Regions from separate parts of the Homo sapiens genome. Here region 1 is linked to region 2. A link means that fine-mapping ties the variant in region 2 to the expression of a gene that starts in the linked region. Tissue or cell type: lymphoblastoid cells. Region 2 holds a variant in brackets; the other region holds the start of a gene. All regions are shown on one strand. Distances are between the middles of the regions.

What was found. PIP is the estimated chance that this variant, and not a neighbour inherited with it, causes the effect.
Region 1: PUM3 starts here. The variant in region 2 is fine-mapped to the expression of PUM3 in lymphoblastoid cells (GTEx, PIP 0.98).

The regions. Positions count from the first base shown.
Region 1 is chr9:2,840,328-2,848,509 of GRCh38, forward strand. PUM3 (pumilio RNA binding family member 3) reads right to left here and starts at 3,768. Exons shown (of 18, transcript NM_014878.5): 1 at 3,718-3,768. RefSeq lists enhancers at 2,797-3,358, 3,742-4,036, 3,860-4,099.
Region 2 is chr9:2,684,849-2,693,030 of GRCh38, forward strand. It overlaps LOC105375957 (a long non-coding RNA gene), which reads right to left. Exons shown (of 3, transcript XR_929436.3): 1 at 1-8,182. Among named protein-coding and RNA genes, the nearest start is that of KCNV2, 29 kb to the right of the region's middle. The variant C/T (reference allele first, on the strand shown) is at 3,776.

The DNA of each region.
Region 1 (8,182 bases), 160 kb after region 2:
CCCAGAAGGAGGGGTACTAAAGAATCCAGGCATACGTTAAACTACCACAGCAATTAATAAACATTTTAGACAAGATGTTTGGAGAATATGTAGACATCCTATGTCCTCCTAAGTTTTACCTGCTAACTTTAGCATTTGTCGGTGGATATCGCCTGCAGCAATTACTGCATTTAAATGGTGATCTTCTATTTCTCTTATTACTTTTGCCTTTGTTATTCTCAACTTTTCTGTAGGGAAGACTTGTCCCATCTTTTCCATCTATTTACTTGTATCATATAGTCTCAGATATTTATTTCATTCCTTGGTTATAATCCAATACCACTGTTATTTTGTTGCTCAAATAATGCTAGCTCCAGCCAGGGGGAAGTTTCTCAGGTTGCTTCTGTGTCCTTTTGACGCGGCCCAACTGTTTTGTTTTGCTTTTAAAGCACATCCTTATTTCCTGGCACTGGCTCCAGGTTCCTTCTGTATTTTCCTTAACCTAGCCCTGAAATCAGCCACTTCTCCAAGGAATCCTGGTTCCTTTCATTGAGAATGGTATTTAAAAACCAAGATCTGAGTGCTAGGCGCACTTGTTGTCACTGAGGTGTCCCTGTTTCTATGTCCTTTCGGCAGACAGATTCAGGAAACACATATATGTATATTAACTTATGCATATGCACATACCTATATTTATTTTTATATCTATTACAATAACTTGAAGCTCATACTGATGTTTCCAAATCTAATCAAGCACCACATATTTTCCTCCAGGCATCTCCTCTTGCTCATTTGTAACTTCCTTCTCTGACAGTGAGCAACCTGCTTCCCACCATCTACAATTTATTTATACACATATTCCACCCTACTATACATGCATAGTTTCAGAATTGCTAACCTGTACCCCGTGAGAAATAAATTTACAATGACAGTACAGTGTTGACGTACAATTCTTTTTTGTATCCATTCAAAATACTTTTCCAAAGTTACTTAGAGGCTTGCATGGTGGCTCACACCTGTAATCCCAGCACTTTGGGAGGCTGAGGCAGGTGGATTACCTGAGGTCAGGAGTTCAAGACCAAACCCCATCTCTACTAAAAATACAAAATTTAGCTGGGCATGGTGGTGTTGCAAACATGTAATCCCAGCTACTCAGGGGGCTGAGGCAGGAAAATCACCTGAACCCAGGAGGCAGAGGCTGCAGCGAGCTGAGATTGTGCCACTACACTCCAGCCTGGGCAACAGAGTGAGACTCTATTTCAAATGTTAAACTACCATAGCAATTAATAAACATTTCAGACAAGATGTTTGGAGAATATATGGACATCCTACCTCCTCTTAAGTTTTACTTGCTAACTTTAGCATTCAAGTCAGTGTATTCTGCCTGCAGCAATTACTGCTGCAGGCCAAAAAAAAAAAAAAAAGGTTCTTAGATCAGCCCTTCGGCCCCTCACCCTCTTTAGTGAAGTTACATGTTTATAATATAGTTTAACTGATTTGTCACAGCCTGCATTCCATCCCCAGAAATGCTGGCAGATTTATTAAATGTGCATATAGTCAAGTTTACTCTTTCTGGTGTATAATTCCACGGGCTTCAACAAATGGCTAAGACTCATGCATCCACTACCACAGTATCTTACAGAAAAGTCCTGTCACTCTAAAAAGTCCCCTGGTACAGCTCCTTTGTATTCAACTCCTTCCCTCTTTCCTGACTGCCAATGATTAGGTTTTCACTCCTGTTTTGTCTTTTCCAGAATGGCATTCTTATACATGGAATCATACAATATGTAACTTTTTGAGTCTTGCTTTTTGCACTGGGCAAAATGCAATTTGCTTTGCTTGGGAACCCTGTACCTTCGTAATGAATCATCACATTCAATAGTGTCTCTTGGAATTCGCCCCCCTTTTTCCTTTCCCTCTATTACCCCATTCAGGCTCCTGTTACCTCTTGCTCAGTTTTGTTTAGATCCTATCTGCTTTGATCCACTTTCCGCTGCCTGATTAACCTTCCAGTAGCACACCTATTTCATGTCATTTCCATGCTCCAATAGCTTCAAAGCTTTCCCACTGCCTTCAGGAAAAAGTTCCAACTCAGGCATTCACAGCCATTCAAAATGTGGTCTTAATTCACCCCACTCATCACCACCACACAGGAGCCACTATTCTTATCAGAATAGTGAAGTTTAAAGCCATTCTCTCTACCAACACAATTTCTACCCATCCTTCAAATTCAGTTTAAATGACATTTTCTTATAGACCAACCTCTACATGTTAGCATTCCTCAAATCTTTGCCCTAGGGAACTTCCCTTCTCTCTCCACACTTCTCCCTAGGTGGTCTCATCCAATCTCCTGGCTTTTTATGCTGAGTACTCCCAAATCATGTCTCCATTATGAACTTCTCCTTGGGGTCCAAACTTGTGTATAACTGCTTATCTGATACCTCTAATTATGTGTCTAACAGGAACCTTACCCTTAATATGTCCAAAACATAATTCTCTATGTTGTTCTTTATGTTATTGTTGTTTGCCCCACAAACAACAATATACTATTTTTCCCTGCCCTATCGTCCTCCATCTCAGCCAATGGCACATCATCTACTTTACTGCTCAAGTAAGAAATCTGAGTTACCCTTGACATTTTCCTCTCTACTCTGCCACGCTGAACCATAAGTTAGTTCTCTTAAATGTCCCTTACGTCACCACCCTAATGCAAACTATTACCAATACAATCTCTTGAGCTTCCAAATGTAATACATTTTCTAAAGAGAACCAGGGCCTATTCATGATTCTCACTTGCTTACAAGTCTTCAATGTTTTCTACACATGGTAATAGGAACGGAAATGTTTTCCTATTGTACAGAAAAAAAAATTCCCCATCATGACCTTCAAGGCCCTACAGAACCTAGTTCCACTCTATCCGGCTAACTTTATCTTGTACTCTAACTATACTCCTTCCTAGCTCCCATCTCAGGAACTTAGCCCATTATCGCCTCTGCTTGAAGTACTCCCTGAGCTTCCAAATCTCCGTTTAAAGATCACTTCTTCAGACTCCACTATCTGCCAACTCAGCATCCAGTTCGTTTCCTCCCAGCACTTAGAATCTGCGTACATTCAGGCAAACCGCCTAGCACTGGAGTTGGGGTTTGTGAAGTAGCACAGACAGGCTGATCAGGCCGAGCACGGGCTGGGATTCCGGAGTGAAGCTAGTCCACTCTAACCCGGCACGCAGGGCAACGTGGTGGGAGAGAGGTCGGAGTCCCGCCCTTCTTTTTTTTTTTTTTTTTTTTTTTGAGACGGAGTCTTGCTCTGTCTCCCAGGCTGGAGTGTAGTGGCACGATCTTGGCTCACTGCAAGCTCCGCCTCCCGGGTTCACGCCATTCTCCTGCCTCAGCCTCCCAAGTAGCTGGGACCACAGGCGCCCGCCACCATGCCCGGCTAATTTTTTGTAGTTTTAGTAGAGACGGGGTTTCACCGTGTTAGCCAGGATGGTCTCGATCTCCTGACCTTGTGATCCGCCCGCCTCGGCCTCCCAAAGTGCTGGGATTACAGGCGTGAGCCACCGCGCCCGGCCAGTCCCGCCCTTCTTGCCAGGCTCCAGTCAGTCCCAAACTCCTAGCCCAGAAAGAGGCCAGAGGAGACTGCCCAGTGGACAACAGCCCCGAGAGACCTTCCCGACTTCCAGCGCCCGGCAGGGTGCGAACCCCTCCCAAGAGCGACCGCTGAGCCTGCCACACTCACCGCACACGTGGGACCGAGACAGCTCGCGCAGCGGATCCCGACCGCCTCTCCGCTTCCGCTTCCTTGCCTTGCTCCGCCCCCGGGCCGCTTTTTTTCATCTTCCGCGGCGGATCAGGGACTAAGAGGTGGAGCTTCCCAGAGAATACAAAAATTCGGAATTTCTATTGGTCCGCTGCTGTTATGCCTCCTCTTGAGGCGCGAGGATTTTGGCCCTTGCAAGAATCCGTCGGGCGGAGGACGCGACAACGGCCACGGGAAATGACGTCATTAACCCTGTGGCTTCCGTGCTGGAAAGAGAGGGAGAGCTCTTGCGAGGCAGAACAGGCTGCTGAAGGACAGACCTGGCTGGCGCGGTTAATAAGAGGCCTGCATCCCGTAGCCTGAACAAATATTGAAGTAGCTAAAGTTTCTAAAGTGTGTTAATTTGCATACTTCCTCAGCAGTCCAGCGTGGAGGATAAAAGGGGTATCTTGTGAGTCGATTTGAATTGTAATCCCGTTTTTTTCACTTGCTAGCTGTGTGGCTCTGGGAAAATTACAGTTTTTATGAGCTTTGGCTTCCTGATCAATAAAATAGAAATAATTAAGTGATACGTGCAAAGCGCTTAGCATGGAACGCTCTCAATAAATGTTTGCCATTTTTAGTGTCTGCTCGTGCCTGGAAACTGCTGTTATTCCATTTTATACTTCAGGAAATAAGATTGTGGTTAGGATATATGCCCCATTTTCCAGATGAAGAAACTGACACCACAAACTTGCTCGTGTCAAGCAACAGAATTTTATTCTTTAACTGTTCTAGAGGCAAGAATTCCAAAATCAAGCTGTTGGCAGAGCCCTGCACCTTTTGAAGGCTCTAGGGGAGAATGCTTTGCTTCTTCAGCTTCTAACGGTTCCAGGCGGTCCGTGGCCTCTTGTTGCATGACTCCAATCTCGGCCTGTCTTCTAATGGCCTTCTCCTGTGCCTGTGCCACTTCTCTGTGTGTTTTTAGGACACTGAACATTGAATTTAGAGTCCACGGGGATAATCCAAGATCATCTCATCTGGAGGTCCTTAATCACATCTGCAAAGGCCCTTTTCCCAAATAAGGTCACTTTCACATGTCCTGGGAGTTAGGACATAGACATATCTTTTGGAGACTATTCAACCCACTGCATCTGTAAAGTTGAGGAACTGGCACTTGATCCCTGGTGCCAGACTTCAGATTTTACTGTCTTCCAACTTACTCCGTTTTCTGGCCACTAAGGAGTTAGAGTTGAAACTGGTAATTTAGTAGACTGTATGCTTCTTGATGACAGGGGCCATCATTACTTTCCAGGCACTTATCTCACTATGCAGCACATAGATACTTGATAAGTTCTTGTCGTCTACCTTAACTGTTACTAGTTTACATTTCAGCTCATTTAAATCTCATAAGAACGTTTTAAATAGGTCTTTTCTCATTTTACAGAGAAAGGCAAAACATAGTAGCTTTGGTCCAGTGAGCCTGACTCTAAACTCAACGTGGCTGCCTCCGTACTGCTTTCAATAATTCAGTAAATGCTAAGAGAAGAGAATATGGAACAGGAATTGCAGGAGGCCCATCAGCTGTGCCTTTTGGGCAAATAGCATAGTAGTGGGGATATTAGACACCTTGAAACACCTGACAAGTAAATGCTGGCCAAAAAGAAAGAAAAATCGCAAAATACACCCTATCACACAACCCTGGGAAGGGATACGTTTGTGTTTTCAACTCGACAGACAGCAGCACCCCATATCCTTGAAGATAGGTCCATGCAGTTGCCTTAAGCATCTGCACCAAAACCCTGCTATTCATTTGCCTTTTCACCAGGGAGGAAAAAAAAAATGTTATCACATATCAAAGCCCTTGATTATTATTAAAAACTTTTTTATCAAGTCTTCTGTGAAAGTGGATTGATTTGGATTTTTTTTTTTTTTTTGGAGTGAATTGAAAGCATCGTGTGGTTTTGCAGAACAGCACAAAAAAAGCTTATCCTGTAATTTTTTTTTTTGTCAAGCAAACCCATTAATTCTTCAAATATCTAATGATCTAAATGTAGACCACTAGGTGTACTCCTACAAGCCTAAGATGCTCTTCTTGCGTGATACACAATTTAATCAGAGCAACTAGACTTGCACACATCCAAGAGGTTAATAACAGTACTATAGCAATGCAATGACGAGCATTGAGATTAGAATCAAAGGAACCTGGCTTACAATCTAAATTCTGTATGGCCAAGGACAAGATAGCCAACTTGTATGGGCCTCAGTTTCTGCATATGTAAAATGGGAATAACAACACTTGTTTCTGGAGTTGCTGTGAGGCTTAAAAGTGATAATATCTTAAAGTTCTTAGCCAGTAGTAAATGTTGAGTGATTTGTAGCTTAAGAGAGAACCAAGGTGTACCCATTTGAAATACTTTGGGGCCGGGCGCTGTGGCTCACACCTGTAATCCCAGCAGTTTGGGAGGCCAAGGCAGGTGGATCACCTGAGGCCAGGAATTCGAGGCCAGCCTGGCTAACATGGCCAAACCCCATCTCTACAAAAATACAAAAATTAGCCAGGTGTGGTGGTGCATGCCTGTACTCCCTGCTACTCTGGAGGCTGAAGCATGGAGAATCGCTTGAACTGGAGAGGCGGAGGTGCAGTGAGTGGAGATTGTGCCACTGTACTCCAGCCTGGGCAACAGAGTGAGACTCTGCCTCAAAAAAAAAAAAGAAAAAAAGAAATACGTTTGACTTCACATAACGGAAAGTTCAGCTAATGGTGGCTTAAGCAATCATTTTCTTAACATAAAAATTTGGAAGGTACTTGGTTGTTGTGGTTCAATGACACAACAATGTCATCAAAGACCCACGCTCTTCCAGTCTCTGTTCTACCACCATCCTCAACGTTGACTTTTTATTGTCCCATTTACTGCTTTTTGATTGCAAGATGAACTCCTCAGTTTCCATATTTATCTAAGAGTTCAGGGCTAGTGAAAGTGCAGAAAGAAATGAAATCCACTATTTCCTCCCAGTGGGGCTCCGTCCTTTTATCCCAGAAGGAAAAGACCCAACAGGAGTCTCCCTTCTATTTCAGTGCCAAGAACTGGATTACACGGCCACCCCAGAATTGAAAGACCATCAGATACAATGTTAACCAGGCATTTGGATTTCATTCTTTTTCTAGTACTCTGGTAAAATTAAAGATCACTTAGCAAATATGCTTTTATCCAGCAGTAGAGATTTAATTTGTGACTTAAGCTAATCTGGTTTAAAACTTAAAATAACTATAGTATCCCAGGTGGTGGATAGCAATCTGGGCAGCGCATTGAATCACCTGTGGAGTTTTTGTTTTTGTTTCTTTAAGTAGCAGTAGTTCTGATTTAATTGGTCTGGAATGGGACCTGAGCATTGAGAATTTGATGCCTAGATCATGCTAACATGCAGCTAAGGTTAAGACCCAGTTATTTAAGGAATGGGGTTCAAGTTTTGTTTGTCTGTTTGAGACAGAGTCTTGTTCTGTCACCCAGGCTGGAGTGCAGCGGTACGATCTCAGCTTACTGCAACCTCTGCCTCCCGGGTTCAGGCAGTTCTCCTGCCTCAGCCTCCCAAGTAGCTGGGACTACAGGCGTGCGCCACCAGGCCCGGCTAATTTTTGTATTTTTAGTAGAGACGGTGTTGGCCAGGATGGTCTTGGACTCCTGACCTCAGGTGATCCACCTGCCTTGGCCTCCCAAAGTGCTGGGATTACAGGTGTGAGCCACTGCCCCGGGCCTGTTGATTTGATATTTTAGTTAACTAGGGGTTAAATCTCCTGGTTCCTCTTTGTATTGCAGGCACCAGAATTTAAGAATTAAATATACAATATGCTTCTCTCTGTAAGTAGAACATTGGAGAGAATTGTATCTTTCTTGCTGACTGAGTTCTCCTAAAGTGATTTAATACCATTAGATGTTAAAAAATGGTTTAAATTTGAACTATACACTTTCAAACATACTCTGGAAAATGTTTGCTTCTTTTTTCAATTTCACATAATTTTGTGTAATTTTCTTTTTTCCATAAAAATAAAATAGGTTAGGTGTCAGCTCCCATACATCTTCCCCTTCCCAAAATCAGTTCTCTGGAGTTCTAATTAGTGGATTTTTAACGAATTACGTTGTTTTTCTGTTTCTCAAATGCATAAGCAGAGATAGAGGGCATGTTACTGATATAAAGCATAAGTGATATTTTGGCAAGGATTGGGCTTTATTTTCAGGACCTATTAGAATCATAAATCCATGGAAACGGAGCAGTTGCCAACACATTTTTATTTAGTGAAAAAGAACTGCTTCTGAATAGTGTGCATTATGTTTTCCAATATCGTACATTTGCTACAAAGTGCACTAATGTAGTCTAAACATTAATTGAACATTCATAATGCTGTAGTTGCTGTCTAGTAAACACAGTATTAACCTTGTCCTATTTTGCTTTCTTTGATGACAAA
Region 2 (8,182 bases):
TAAAATATGAAAAAATTACCCAGGTGTGGTGGCATGTGCCTGTAGTCCCAGCTACTAGGGAGGCCGAGGCAGGGGAATCACTTGAACCCGGGAGCCAGAGGTTGCAGTGAGCTGAGATCGCGCCACTGCACTCCAGCTTGGTGACAGAGCAAGGCTCGGTCTAAAACAAAAAAAAAAAAATTAGCTGGGTGTGGTGGCATGCACCTGTGGTTCCAGCTACTTGAGAGGCTAAGGTGTAAGGATCGCTTGAGCCCTGGATGTGGAGGCTGCAGTGAACTGAGACTGCACAACTGCACTCCAACCTGGGCAACAGTGGAAAACTCTGTCTCAAAAAAGAAAGAGATTTTTTTAAAAAAGAGAAAACAACAACAAAAAAGAAACAGCCTTAATTCTCCTCAATGTATCATGACACATGCCTGAACATCACATGACCAATAAAACAAAAGAAGTAATTCTATGAACCCACGTGGAATGATCACCAAGAAACCTTAATAGAAAAAGCTCAGTGCAGGACAATACATATGACATGGAGCCTGTTTGCAGACAAATTAACAAAGAAACAGAAGAAAAATATAGTATATCTACATGTGCTTGAATATGCAGGGAATGCCTGTAGAACAGCAGTCAGCAAACTGGCCCAAAGGCCAACACCAGCCCACTACCTGTTTTTTTATTTTTAAAATATTTTTAATGGTTGAAAAAAATAAATAGAAGAATAAATTCAAAAGATGAATATAATGGCATGAAATATATGAAATTCAAATGTCAATGTCCATGAAACTTTCCTGGAACACAGACACACTCTTTTTTTTTTTTTTTTAGTGGCAAGTGCCACTCTGCCCTGCTAATTTTTATATTCTTAGTAGAGACAGGGTTTCACCATGTTGGTACAGGCGCCAGCCACCATGTCCGGCCGACACACTCTTCATACTATCCACAAAATAATGGTAGAATTGAATAGTTGTGATGAAAACTTCATGACCCACTAAGGGTAAAACATTTATTACCTGGGGCTTTACAGAAAAAGTTTGTCCACCCCCGGTCGAAAGGAATTTATAGCAACTAACAGCTATAGTTTCCTCTGGGGAAGGGCACTGGCATTTAAAAACAAGAGCAGGAAGAAGACTTAGGTTTTACTTTCTACCCTTTTGTGTGTGTGTGTGTGTGTGTGTGTGTGCGTGTATACATATATGTGCGTATATATACATATATACGCACATATATATACACACATATACATATATATATATATTTTTTTTTTTTTTTTTTTTTTGAGACAGAGTCTCCCTTTGTCTCCCAGGAGTGCAGTGGCGCGATCTTGGCTCACTGCAACCTCTGCTTCCTGGGTTCAAGCGATTCTCCCTTCAGCCTTCCAAGTAGCTGGGATTACAGGTGCACACTGCCAGGCATGGCTAATTTTTGTAATTTTAGTGGAGATGGGTTTTCACCATGTTGTTCACGCTGGTCTCTAACTGCTGACCCCAAGTGATCTGCCCACCTCGGCCTCCCAAAGTGCTAGGATTACAGGTGTGAGCCACCACACCCGGCCTGCATCTTGAAATTAATATGAACATACTTAAAAAGAAAATATAATGAGAAAAATAAAAGAAATACGATTCATACCAAGTATCTGAAAAAACCTTAATGAGAAAAGTGTGTGACTTTATACATAAAAAATAATGAAACTTATAATAAAGAAGGCTTGAATTAATATAGAGCCATATCTTCCATGAGTAAATATTTGAAAGATGCTAATTTACCTCCTTCCCCCACCCCAAGAAAAATTCACAGAATGATTTCTTCTAAAGTTATAGGAAAGAATAACTGAGCTGAAATATTTAAAATAATTCTAGAAAGCATGGCAGCAGGAGAATCTAGAAAGATAGTGCATTGGTGTCTCCTGCCTTTCCTAGACACACAGCTCCTCCTCAGCTTTCTCTCACTCCCCTCAGCCTAGCATCCACTCAGGCAGTGAATTGGCAAAACTGCACACACACGTTACACACATTGCACACCAGTGTGGTGTGTCCACCCTCTGGGCCAAGTGGGAGCCTGGGAGGCAGAGGCAGCAGAAGGTAGTTCCAAAGCAAGGATCTGAAGCAGCCAGCTCCTGGGAATAGCTTGATCTCCTGAGATCGCTGAACCTCTGTAGGGAAAGTTGACAAAGTTGACATTGGCCAGTCTCGCCAGGCCCAGAGAAGCTCATGAGGAGCTGTGAGGGTGGACGGAGAGCTCCCCCTGAGGCTGGGAAAGCCACGGAGAACCTCCCTCCTCCTCCACCCTTCCTCATGCCATGATAGGGAGTTGATGACTTCTCACTGCAGCCCAGCCAGTTCTCAGGGTCAGATCACCACACCTTCTGTTTCTCAGACAATCTCACCCCACCCTCAATCCCAGTTAAGGTATCCTAGCCACTGAACTCCAATGATCAGCAAAGAAAAATAACCAGATGCTAAGGGGGCTCAACAATCAGAGACAGGAAAAATAAACAAGGATTAGCTGGTCCCTCATGAAATAAAACTGACTGGAACAGGCAGAGGGCAATGTACTAAAAAAAAAAAAAAAAAAATGAAAAAGTAAATGATAAAAAGAGTATTTAAAGGGATTCAAATTCAGCACATAACAAAAGACTTCTTAGAAAACATGCATTCATTTTTTTTTAAGTCACTAGATGAATTTAAGGAAACGATGATCACTGATGATATTCAAATTCAATGGCCTGGAAGATCAAAAGGATAAAATAAGTATATCCTCAAGGAAAAAAATACAAAGGTCTAGTAATCTTGAGGAAAAACATAAGCAGACCCAGGAAACCAGCACGAGAAGAAAAAGAAAAGAAAAAAGTGAAGAGATGGAGAAGAAGCAGAAGTTAAAAAAAACCTTCCCTTAAAAAAAAAAACTGAGTTTTTAAATTGAAAATGCCTAATAAACTTCAGGCACTATTATAGAAAGAAGGGAGACATTTATCCATATTTTGGCAAAACTCCCAAACTTCAAGCATGAAGAGAAAACCTTGAAAAGTTCTGGGTTGAAAAGACCCAGAAATTATCTTTTTTAAAGAAAAAGATAATTCTATAAACTTGGAAAATCTTCATTCTAATGCTAGTAAAACAGAAATAAAAGAAAATAATTACATATTTCTATCAGAAATATAAGTAAGAAAATGGTAAATTTATGTGAAATTTTATGCAGCCAATATAAACAGTCATTAAAATGATTCCATAGTTACATGGAAAAGCACAGATGTAAGGAAAAACAACACATTATAAAGTAAAATAGCAAATTATAGAATGTTATGCAGTATAATTAAAACTATTTTTAAATGTTCATGAAAAAGATAGAATAAACAAAGATTACAGTAGTTGGGTTAGAGTCGTTAGAGGAATAAGCAAGATAACTATAGTTGGGTTAGTGTTGCTAATGGAATTACAGGTTTTATTCCCTGTTTCATACTTTCTATAATGTAATATTTTAGTAATAATTTTTTGAGTTAATAGTTTATATAAAGTTCGGCTTTTGTAAACAAAAAAGGAGTTACATTTTTAATAAGTAACACGAAGAAGTCACAGCTATAATCTGTAAACGCTAAAGGGAAGTTCATACATAGCACATGCCCTGCAGCTAAGCCAGATGATCCAAGGCTCCAGGATCTATATGCCAAGAGCAAAATCAAAGTTTAAGCTTGATATTGCTTGGGGGAGGGGTTTGCCCTAAGACTTAGATGATTAAATTATTTATTAGAAGAAATAAGAGAGGTCTCAATTTCCTTATTTGC[C/T]TGTATGTTTACACCGATTCAAACCAAAGTTTTAGGGTAAAATCTTGTCTCTCTGAAGGCATTTCCTTCGTTTCATCCATACTTACTCATTAGGCTCCTCAGTCTATAGAGTGGGAGAAAGAAACACAGCCCCTGATAGTTGGGAGCTGGCTGGCACTAGCAGTTAGGTCTTGGTATTGCTACTATGGAAAACAATGCTAGACAAGGCCGTTCTATCACTGAGATAAAGTGAGACAGAAATACATTCACCCCATAGTCATGTCTGAGCACAGACAAAAATAAGGCCACTGTGAAAACTACCAAAATATTTCTCTCAGCTTATGAGAGAGACTATAGCTTCTTAATAATCACAGCTTTAATCACACTTTATTCTTCCTGCCTTCTTGATAAAAATTCAGATACCCAGTCAGAATTGGCCCAATTCCTGACAGCACCGTATCCAGAGCAAACTCATGTTTCCTTGAACTCTCTCCAAAATCATCTACCACCACCTCAGATCCCATCATGTAAACCTCTCACACCTTCTCTCTGTGCCTTCCACCTATGTGTCCCCTTGACATGCAGCCTCCCTCAGTGCAACAGGCCAAGAAAAACCCAACTCAGTTTGACTTCAGGTGCATCCCTGGTGGTCTTTGGCTTTAGAGCACTGTCAAATGGAATCGTATCTTTATTCCTGGTTCTTTTTTTTTTTTTTCTTTTGAGACAGAGTTTCACTCTTTCGCCCAGGCTGGAGTGCAATGGTATGATCTCAGCTCACCACAACCTCCACCCCCCAGGTTCAAGTGGTTCTCCTGCTTCAGCCTCCCAAGTAGCTGGGATTACAGGCATGAACCACCATGCCTAGCTAATTTTTGTATTATTAGTAGAGACAGGGTTTTGCCATGTTGGTCAGGCTGGTCTTGAACTCCTGACCTCAGGGGATCCACCCGCCTCGGCCTCCCAAAGTGCTGGGATTACATGCATGAGCCACCATGGCTGGCCTATTCCTGGCTTTTGTCGCCTTTAACACAAGCAATCAAAACTTACTTGGCAAGCCAGAATTCTATTTGTAGGCTTTTGCCATTGCTAAATTCATTGCTCATTGTTATCCAGTACTGATCGATGCTCATTTAAAAGAAGCAATATGATGAACTGCCTGCAGCATACGTAATCCCTTTCTTCCTCTAAGACCTTGAAAATCTAAGGCCTTGGATTAACTGAGGACTTACTGTAGCCTAACTGAATTAAACTTTGGTATAATGCTGTGACAGCATTCAAAAAACCTCATCACTTGGCCACTGTGAAGATGCTGAAAATGCCATTCTTACATAAAGCAGTTTTAGAACTCTCAGGAGAAATATACTTCTTTCGATAATATCAGGAACAGTTTTACTTCTGAGCAATCAGTTTGTTTCCATTTTATATACAGTGTGAATTGTGTAACTGTAAAGTTTCCATTTTTAAGTTGGTTTCTTGAAAAGTGAGCCAAATCTGTAGCAAGATGAGCGTGCTCTCCGATGTTTGCTTCATTCCTGGCTCCCTTTAATTTATCTCTGACCTTGTTTTCCTTTTTCACCATTGCCAAATGTATGTTATCTTGCTTCATTTTATGTACCTGTGTAAGCCTAAATATACCTTTTAAAAAAAATTGGAAAGGCTGTGAAGAAAGACAATTCAAGCCTGAAATGGTGTCATACCAATTACAAAGCAGGGTACCTGTCTAGCAGAAGGTGAGAACAGTGGAGGAGCAATTGAAATCTGGGCTTTGGGGGCTGGGTGGAGAAGGGACCACATCAGGACACTGGAGGAGTGGAACTTAGCAATGTATACGGGAGGTGCAGTGAGCAAGACAGGAAGGAACCTTGTCTGATGGTCCTGTAAAGTTCATGCCAGAGAGATAAGCCTTGGAATGCAGAAGAGGAGAGGAAGATTGGAGAGAACCTAGAAAACAAGGAGCAGGAGTCTAGGCTTGATGTAGATCACATCTGTCCTTTCTGTGTGTCTAACAAACACAATTGCCTATGTCCCCACATTCAGGAGTCAGCAATGCAGGCGGCAGAAAGGATACCGTATTAGTATAATACGGGGCTGTTATAACCAAGTACCACAGACTGAGTGGCTTACACAGCAGAAATGTATTTCTTCACAGTTCTGCAGGCTAGAAATCCAGAATCAAGGTATCAGCAGAGTTTATTTCTTTTCAGGTCTCTCTCCTTTGTTTGTAGATTGCCACCTTCTCCCTATGTTTTCATATGTTCTTCCTTCTCTGTGTGTCTGTATCCTAATCTCTTCTTATAAGGATACCAGTCATAGATTGGATTTGGGTTCACCCAAATGACCTCATTTACCTTAATGACTTCTTTAAAGACTATCTCTCCAAATATAGCCACATTCTGAGGGATTAGGGATTACGACTTCAGCACATGAATTTTGAAGGTACACAGTTCATCCCATGACAGGGACCTGTAGTAGTTTCTGGAGAGGGCACAAAGCAGATGGCAGCTAATATCCAACGAGAGTCCACATGGAAAATGCAATTTGTTTCTGTGAGATGCAGCACCTCCTGATGGAAGGAAGTTGGGAAAAATGAGCATTTTGAAGACGCACTTTCCACTTACCTTGGCACCTGAAAATCAACTAGGGCTCATCTTTTCCAAATACCTCTAATCAACGGCAGCAAGGGAGAAGGGTGAACTTTGGGCATAATGAAGATGACAAAAGAATTTTACTGACAATGACTATGATGAAAACTGTGAACAATTTATGATTTTATCCTCAGTACAATGAGTGATAAAGGACAGGCACACAGTGACTCACAATAGCTATGTAATTCCATCATCACTAAGGCAGAGGTAAGAACACACACAGTGGGACTGGGAATAGTCTTCTGACCTTACCTTCACTCTCTTCCATAGGAGCCACATTTTCTGGCTGACATGTCCAAATCTCTCCTCTCTGTTCTAGTTACTTAACAGAAGAAGTTCATAGACTTTGCTAACATACCATCTCAATATCTTTAACTGGGAATGCATCAGTTGAATTCTGTAAAAGCAGGCTTTGCTTACTCTCAATATTCCCTGTTTAAAAAAAAAAGTTGCTGGCTGCTTCTGACATGTTCCCAGTTAAACTCATGCTATCCTGTATGCCGCTGAGCCTCTCTTCCTCTCTAACCTGTTTCAGATTGGTTTCAGCAGCTGTATGTGCTTCATAGAAACAGAATTCTCTCCAAGGAAAAAAAACATCATTTCCAGTAAAATCACCAAACTCCAGCCTGCTATGTGAATGGAAGGAAATGTTACATTCTTTATAACAGGATGAATTACTTCCTGTTGTAAGTCCAGTGAAAAACGAATCATTGGTTAGGAAGAAACATAGGGCCCATGACATTTTCAGTGCTACCTATTATCTTCTTTCCAATAATAACTCCTGATGTTATAGTCACTTCAACATTGAGTTTGCTATATTATCAAGTAAATTCCCCTCTTGCCTTTACTGCAATCCTTTCAAGTTGACTTTTGCTTTTCTGTGCTACCCCATCCATGCAATGTTTCATGATTGGCTGCTATCCCTGAAGGTTATACTCATTCCAAGTTCAGTTGACTGAGGTTGCCCCAATTATTATTCTAAATGGATCTCTTTTTTTCATAAGATAAAAACATTATTTGAATAAAAGTGGATGTCAGATCCAATTTGAGAAGGCTTAAGCTTGAGAAGGAGAAAATAATTGGAAACTATTGAGTAAAAGGTTGAAAGTAAGAAAATTCTGGTTGTTGCATTCAAGGCAGATGAGTTTAGGAAAGGACTGAGGAGAGGAGGATGGGTTGGGAGGCATTCAGGGCAACCCAATCCTGAGGTGACACTTCAAGGGCTTGAATTCCCCAAAGCTATGAGAAATGAAGGACCCTAGAAACAAGGAATCTTAGAGAGTGGCCACAGTAAAAGGAGAAAAGAAAATAGGTCAGCCAAAAGGACAAGACAAGCGCCACTGGGAAAGACGGCATCACCAAAGTTTTGAGGCACAAAACTTTTAAGACCTTATAGTCCAAACTGCTTTAATGTGATTTAATTTCGTTTATTTATTTTTGAGATGGAGTCTCACTCTATCACTCAGGCTGCAGTGCAGTGGTGCAATCTCAGCTCACTGCAACCTCTGCCTCCCAGGTACAAGCGATTCTCCTGCCTCAGCCTCCCAAGTAGCTGGGATTACAAGTGTGACTCATCACTCCCAGCTAATTTTTGTATTTTTAGTAGACATGGGGTTTCACCATGTTGGCCAGGCTGGCCTCAAACTCCTGACCTCAAGTGATTTGCCCTCCTCAGCCTCCTAAAGTGCTGGGATTACAGGCATGAGCCACCACACCTAGCCCCAAACTGCTTTTATTTTAAATGCGAATTCATGCTTCAGAGTTGAATTAAATGTTACAAAAT